2 linked regions of the Homo sapiens genome follow. The protein of the gene in region 1 purifies or fractionates together with the protein of each later gene. This does not show direct contact. Each region holds a gene or a part of one and is shown on either strand. Other genes may lie near its edges. The genes, in order: PURB and RFC3.

The links.
Region 2: the proteins of PURB (region 1) and RFC3 fractionate together in Homo sapiens (co-fractionation; one large-scale study listed by BioGRID). This does not show direct contact.

What each region holds. Positions count from the first base shown.
Region 1 is NC_000007.14:44,882,721-44,887,016, reverse strand, and holds the start of PURB (transcriptional regulator protein Pur-beta), read left to right. Parts: upstream 1-1,486; 5' UTR 1,487-1,668; coding exon 1,669-2,607; 3' UTR 2,608-4,296. UniProt on the Homo sapiens protein: Transcriptional regulator which can act as an activator or a repressor.
Region 2 is NC_000013.11:33,828,016-33,831,830, reverse strand, and holds part of RFC3 (replication factor C subunit 3), read right to left. Parts: intron 1,996-3,815; coding exon 1,814-1,995; intron 1,113-1,813; coding exon 976-1,112; intron 576-975; coding exon 477-575; intron 1-476. UniProt on the Homo sapiens protein: Subunit of the replication factor C (RFC) complex which acts during elongation of primed DNA templates by DNA polymerases delta and epsilon, and is necessary for ATP-dependent loading of proliferating cell nuclear antigen (PCNA) onto primed DNA.

The sequences.
Region 1 (4,296 bases):
CTGACTTTAATTTATATTTCCCTAATGATGAATAATGTTGAGCACTGTTTCATGTGCTTACTGGCTTTTTTGACGAAGTGTCTGTTAAAATCTTTCACCTTTTATATTGGGTTATCTATTATTTGTGTTCTTTACAAGTCCATTGTTGGATTCACTATCTATGAATAACTACATTTAGGCTGGGTGTGGTGGCTCACATCTGTAATCCCAGCACTTTGGGAGGCTGAGGCGGGCAGATCACCTGAGGTCAGGAGTTCAAGACCAGCCTGGCCAACATTGTGGAACCCCATCTCTACTAAAAATACAAAAATTAGCCGGGTGTGGTGGCGGTTGCCTGTAATCCCAGCTACTCAGGAGGCTGAGGTAGGAGAATTGCTTGAACCCGGGAGGTGGAGGGTGTAATGAGCTAAAATCACGCCACTGCACTCCAGCCTGGGTGACAGAGCAAGACTCAAAAAAAAAAAAAAAAAAATTTAAGGATGAGGACATTTTGGCTTTGGAAAATCAAGTAACTGGTCAAGGTCACAGATTCAAACCCAGTGCAGTTGCAGAGCCTACACTTTTTAACACTATTCCAATTCTGCCTCTTGTTACACCTCAATGCTTACAACAAAAAGACCTCATAGGAATTATTCATTTTATTGATAAAGAAACTAAAGATTGGCAGTCAATTTCCTTAACCACTTTAATATGGCTAACTGTGGGGACAGTTAACTGATCTCTGGATCCCAAATCTAACCTCATCCTAAATCATCTTCTTTCTATATTGTTCCCACAGTGATCTTTCCAAAATGTGAACCTGATCACATACGGTGGCTCCAGACTCTGGGGTAGGCACTAACTCTCCCGCACTGCAAATGGCTTTCCTTGATCTAATCCACCCTCCAGTGTCATCTACGACCATTCTTCAGGCATACACACCCCCAGCTGCTCTGAGCTCCCAGCATCAGGCCCTGGGTGCCTCTGCACTGCCGTCTCCTATGCTGGGTGGCTCTTCTCCAGAGTTGCCAGGCCAACTGCAGTTTGCCCTTCAGAGTCAGCTCATGCCTCCTCTAGGGAACCCCACAGGCTGGTCAGAACCCGCTTCCGAGTGCTCCAAAGGATCTCCCTCCCCCCGGTCGCCAGTGTATAGACTGGAACTCTGTTCCCAGCACACAACCAGCGCGAGCAGGCTGGGGCCTGAGTATGCTCAGCTAACGCCCCGGAAGCGAGAAGGAGGGAAGTGGACGACACCGGAGTCTAAAGTAAAAGTGTCACGGGAAGAGGCGCGTAGACAGACGCAGCGGGCGGCTGAGTCACGCTAAGGCTGGCAAGTCCCCAGGGCTAGAAACCGAGCAGTAACACTAGCCTACTCTCAGCTTGCCGCCCGCCCGGCGCGGCCCCTGACGTCACCCCTCTGCGCCACGCCGCCGCGGCGCTTCCGGCCGCGAGGCCGCGGAGGGCGGGACGGAGTGACTTCACGGGAAATCGCGCGCCGGAAGTGGCTAGGGCTGCACGGAAGTCGCGGGGGCGGGGCGCGGAGGCGATGGGGGGGCGGCGGCGGCCGGCGATGAGCGGCGGGAGCGCGTGAGCGAGCCGGGCGGGCGAGGCTGGGGGGCCCCGGAGCGCGAGCCGGAGGGCGGGGGCGCGAGCGCGGCGGGCGGTGGCGGCGAGGCGGCGGCCTAGAAGATGGCGGACGGCGACAGCGGCAGCGAGCGCGGCGGCGGCGGTGGGCCGTGCGGGTTCCAGCCCGCGTCCCGCGGCGGCGGCGAGCAAGAGACGCAGGAGCTGGCCTCGAAGCGGCTGGACATCCAGAACAAGCGCTTCTACTTAGATGTGAAGCAGAACGCCAAGGGCCGCTTCCTCAAGATCGCCGAGGTGGGCGCGGGCGGTTCCAAGAGCCGCCTCACGCTGTCCATGGCGGTGGCCGCCGAGTTCCGCGACTCGCTGGGCGACTTCATAGAACACTACGCGCAGCTGGGCCCTAGCAGCCCCGAGCAGCTGGCGGCTGGCGCCGAGGAGGGCGGCGGGCCGCGGCGCGCGCTCAAGAGCGAATTCTTGGTGCGTGAGAACCGCAAGTACTACCTGGACCTCAAGGAGAACCAGCGCGGCCGCTTCCTGCGCATCCGCCAAACGGTCAACCGCGGCGGTGGCGGCTTCGGCGCGGGCCCCGGGCCGGGCGGCTTGCAGAGCGGCCAGACCATCGCGCTGCCTGCGCAGGGCCTCATCGAGTTCCGCGACGCGCTGGCGAAGCTCATAGACGACTACGGAGGCGAGGACGACGAGCTGGCAGGCGGCCCGGGAGGCGGCGCCGGGGGCCCAGGGGGCGGCCTGTATGGAGAGCTCCCGGAGGGCACCTCCATCACCGTGGACTCCAAGCGCTTCTTCTTCGATGTGGGCTGCAACAAATACGGGGTGTTTCTGCGAGTGAGCGAGGTGAAGCCGTCCTACCGCAATGCCATCACCGTACCCTTCAAAGCCTGGGGCAAGTTCGGAGGCGCCTTTTGCCGGTATGCGGATGAGATGAAAGAAATCCAGGAACGACAGAGGGATAAGCTTTATGAGCGACGTGGTGGGGGCAGCGGCGGCGGCGAAGAGTCAGAGGGTGAGGAGGTGGATGAGGATTGAAACGGGCAGCTTCCCCTACAGGCCTCCACCCAACCACCATCCCCTTGGCTAGAGAATTCCCTTTCCTGCTCATCCCCAGTGAGCTAGTGGAGAGGGAGCAAGGGAGGCCGCAGAGGGAAAAAACAAAACGTAACACAGTTAAGAGAAATAATCGTAAGAGAACAGTGACGGACAACTTGAGAAAAGCAGTCAAGTTCCAAGGAACTGACAGCAACCTGCAAAGAGGAAAACAGCATCTCCTCACCTGCGTAAAATTGTCTCAGCTTCTGTTGTTTCTCAACTGAGGTTCGTAAACCCATCAGGATAATCCCTGGAGGGAATAGATCCTTGCACATCCAGGGCAAGAAACATGTCCAAGTTACCCAGACCATTGATAACAGTTGCATTTAGGTTGCACCTGGGTAATCTGGCATAAAAGATCTCTCTAGGCCTCACTGTTGCGGTGTCTATCCCTTCACCTCCATTGAAATCAGCATTTTGGATCTAGGTCTTCATGGAATCCTTGAGAAGAGAGGCCTTTACAATTACCCAGTTCTGAGGGTTCAGGTTCACGAAAAGAAATGCAACTTGGGATAATCATGAACAGGTTAAAGATAAGATTTCAAGAAGCCATCTAAGAATACAGAACCAAATTGGATCCATTTTTTTAAAAAAATGGTTTTGCATGGAACCTGGACCAAGGCAAATGTCTTTTCTTCGCAGAATTGTTTTCCAGGATGCCAGTGGATTCAGATAGCAATGCTTGGAGTAGAATCCGTTACTAAAATAGTTTCAAAGTTGACAAAAAATTTTCAAAGATAAAAGCAGTTTTACATTGGGGGTTGCTGAGGTAGGCACAAGAAAAAGTCAGGCATAAAGCACAAGGCAGACTGTTTGAGTGGATTGGTTGCTGCTCACTAAAGTTGTTCCCCTGATCTCTAAATATGGAGGTCATTACCAAGAAATGCTTTGGTATGAATGAGAGCCAGATCTCCACTGTGTGAGCCAGTGAATTATGGCTAATTCGGCTGTTACAGCCACTGGTTGGCTGGATTTTAAACCATAAAACTTGAAGATTACCTACAAAAGTAACAGTGTGGCTATAAGCCTGAGCTTTAATGGATATACATCCTCACAGAAAAGTTGGAAATAACCAAAACTGAAGTCTTAATTTACCTTCAGTTTAATCTGTGGATTTGTTCAAATACTAAAGATCCTCAGGTCCAGAATTCCAGCATCATTTATTCTTTTAAAATTTTTAAGAACTTGATCCATTGTATCAGTACCTCACAATCAGAGTTGGCAAATGATGGATGAGTGATTCAAGCAGTGCACCCGGTGGAAGCTGAAATCCATCTGTGAATGGAACTGAAGTGAACGTGAATATGCTGACTATATCCTGGAAGCATTTTTATACCATCTTGAAATTTCAACAAACTGGCTTTTGCCAGTTAATCCAGCTGTCTTTCAAGAATAAAAGTTGGGGTTTTCAAGGATCGCCTCTTCTATATTTTAAATGGATTTTCAGTAGAAATGATTTTTACTAATCAAGTTAATCCCACCCCATCAAAAGGTATTCCTAGAAATGTCATAGACCTAGGTAACTTTGAATTGAATGGGAGCTAACGTTCTTTCCAAAGTTTTCAGGTATTCTTTGTGTGACACCTTCTCAACCAGGAGGCAAGTAACCCCGCCTCCACAATCTTAGTA
Region 2 (3,815 bases), on another chromosome or scaffold:
AGATAAAACTCTAAAATGAAGTTACCTGATCAAGAACACTTAGCTAGGAGTTCAGGACAAGAACTAGAAGTCTGACTTATAGTCTGGTGTCTTTCTAGCACATGATGCATCATTGATTACAAAGTTTTACATTGTCCTTTACTAGAAAGCTACGCACATTATCTCTAGCTTTGTGTTGTATGTTAATGTTAAGTAATCTGAGATCCTAAAAGGAAAATTAAAATTAATATAAATTCCACTTTTACATGATCACATGTAAGCCATGATATTACAGCTTAATAAAAGCCATAATATCACACACCAACTATTCTGAACCACTAAATTTCTGAAGTTAAATGCTACATTTTCCTTAAAAAGTTAATACATAGATTCAGGATTTAATTATAATTCAAAATGACATTAGCATAAAATAGTTAATATGTGTCCTATGATATCCTGATAATGAAAGCTTTACTGTCATCATTTTATACTGGTACCTTTGTGGAGTTTGCTGACTGACAATAGCATTTGCAGTCTCCCTCAGATACACCTCCCAATCTGTCTCAGGGATTTCTTGATCTGCAGTAAAAGGATATCTACATGACAAAAAGAGAACACAAGAAGTTAAACAGAAGTGTGCTTATGTCCTAAAACAGGAGTCCCCAACCACTGGTCCGTGCGGTTAGGAACCGGGCTGCACAGCAGGAGTGAGCAGCGGATAGGCCAGCATTATGGCCTGAGTTCCACCTCCTGTCGGACCAGTGATGTTATTAGCTTCTGATAGGAGCGTGAACCGTATTGTGAACTGCTTATGCAAGGGATCTACGCTCCAAATGAAAATCTAATGCTTAATAATCTGAGGTGGAACAATTTCATCCTGAAACCATCCCCCACCCCTGCCCAGTCCATGGAAAAATTGTCTTCCACAAAACTGGTCCCTGGTGCCAAAAAGCTTGGGGGCCAAAGTCCTAGAATGTAACTACCCCTTCCACTCACTGTTGCACTCTGCAGGCTTCACACATAAGCAGGGCTTTTCTGAGATTTCTACAAGACTTCTCTGCAAGTCTATGAGCCAGTTGTGAAGGAAGATTCAGACCTTCCTTCTTACACACAGTAGATAACACGTGGCAAATCTACAAATAAAATTAACAAAAATGGGCAATCCATTAAAAAGCAGATTAAGATTCATTTCTGTTGATATCCTCCTAGACCCTTATAACTGTATTACTCTCAAAATTCTTATAAGTGAAACTTACACTAAAAGTAACTTACCACTCTGCATCTAACACAATGTTGCATATTATCCCTACTTTGCATGAAATCTCCCAAAATCTATTAAAAGCTGGAAAGATATTTAATGTGAGGAATCATAATTTTTGCTGATGGCTGTTAAGAATGGAGAAAAAAATATATCTATGTATATATATTCATATTAATGTTATTTCATACTAACTTTAATTCCCTTCCTAGGGACTAGGTATTCCCACATCATCTCTTTGCAAAATCTGTTTCCTCAATATTCCAGCCTCCTCTTATAGCCAACTAAATCAGCTTGAGAAAGAAGACAGTAAATAACTAGCCCTTACCTAGTTTAGTAGAATTCGTAATACCTACTTGTTCAAAGTAAAGATGGTTTAAAGGGAAAAACACTTTCTATATATTGGCATCTGGTATTTACAACTATACGCTTTGGTTTGTTCACATATTAATGCTTTGCATCCAGGTCTGTAGGTGTTCTTAAATTACTGATACGATTCCCTTCTTTTACAACAAGCATACAATATTCAGAGAATCTGAACTGATTTATTTTTCAGAAAAGTGTAACTTGACCTACATCTTCAATGCTGGGAGCAGGCACACGAACCGCCAAGCACCTACTACGAATAGGTGGGATCACTTTAGATGTAGAATTGCAGCACAAGATCAATCTGCAGGTAGACATATATTTTTCCATGGTTCTTCGCAAGGCATGCTGAGCATCTTTGGTGAGTTTGTCAACTTCTGTCAATAATACCACTGAGTCAAAGAGAAACAAAACAAACTTTAACTTGAGTTCACTCAAACTTTAACTTGTCTCTTTCTTCCTTCTCATTATCCAGGATGAAATCCTAAATAATAAGCCTGATATACTACTCTTCCCATTGGCAAAGATAAAGTTATAAGTATGGTAAAATTACTTTATTATTTTAAAATGCTACAATCATACTCCAGTTTCTCTTCAGATCATATAAATATTTTGCCTTTTACTAAAGACTTCTATAGAGAGGAACAGCTCTGAGTTTTTAATATTGTGAGACCTTGCGTTGGCAGGGCTAGTAAAAAAAAGAAAAGAATCTATAATCAAACAAGACCAAGAAACACTAGGCTAAATGAAGTTAAAAGGTCACTTTGTAGTAGAAATCATTGCAACCTTTATTATTTATATGCGCTAAAATTTACCAAGACAAGGAAGTACTGTGCTGCATTTCCCCAAAATAACTTTACTCAGCAGCACATTTCTGTGGTACACCTTAATCTAAAATATTAAATTCCAAGGAATAGACTTTGGAAGACAGTGGTGCAAGAGATGTAGGCAACAAGGCATGAGGATATCTGGCCACCATAAAGTAAGATTCCATCTGGCCACAATCACAGATCAGCCTTAACATAGTTCAGGAATAATGTATACACAGAAACTGAATCCAATATTGTATTTTTCATTATATTAACAAATTATTTCTAGAAGATGAACTGGCAGCATGTAGCATTTAGATCTGCCCCATAAAAATAAACAGAACAACTAAAGATTCCAAAACAAAGAACCCATGAACATTATACAGAAACCAGGCAACAAGCTTTACCCAAGAACCCCAAACATGAGCAAGTGAGAATAAGCAACTAAAACTGGAAAGGCCCACATAGTATCAGCAACGGTGTGGGAGGAAGATTTTGACAGACTTTATGACAGGAAAAGCTCAAAATCACCCACGGGAACATACTAGAAACCATGGTGCGGCCAATTTGAAAGCAGCAGTTGGCCAGGCACAGTGGCTCATGCCTGTAATCTGCCTGTAATCCCAACATTTTGGGAGGCTGAGGAAGGCAGATCCCTTGAGCCCAAGAATTCAACACTAGCCTGGGCAACATAGCAAAACCCCATGTCTACAAAAATACAAAACATTGCCGGGCATGGTGGTGTGTGCCTGTAGTCCCAGGAGACTGAAGTGGGAGGATTACTTGAGCCCAGGAGGTCAAGGCTGCAGTAAGCTCTGATGGCACCGCTGCACTCCAGCCTGTTGCCACACAGTGAGACACTGTCTCAAAGAAAGCAGCAGTCTTACCGAGGGGGGAGATTCGACAGAGCCCAATTTATGGGTGAGAGCAAGGGAACCCTGATGCAGTAAGGTTTGACAGAACAGCAGACTCTGAGAATACCAAAATGAAGTTCCCTTCTAAGACAGTGTTCCAGGTGGCTGTGGCTGGTGCAGTGGCTTGTGCCTGTAATCCCAGCACTGTGGGTAGCCGAGCTAGGAAGATGGCTTGAGGACAGGAGTTCCAGACTAAGACAATGCTCCACAATGAGAAGAAATCCCAGACCAAATTGAGAACAGGTAAAAGAGAGACAAAGGAAAGAATCCCAATAAAGGTGACAGAAAATAAGATAGGGAATAGAGCTCAGAACACAAGGTCATTTATTTACTTTATTTTTTTATTTTATTTTTTTAGAGACAGGGTCTCACTCTGTCACCCAGGCGGGAGTGCAGTAGCTTGATCATGGCTCACTGCAATCCCAAACTCCTGGGTTCAAGCAATCTTCCCACCTCAGCTCCCAAGTAGCTAAGACTACAGGCATGAGC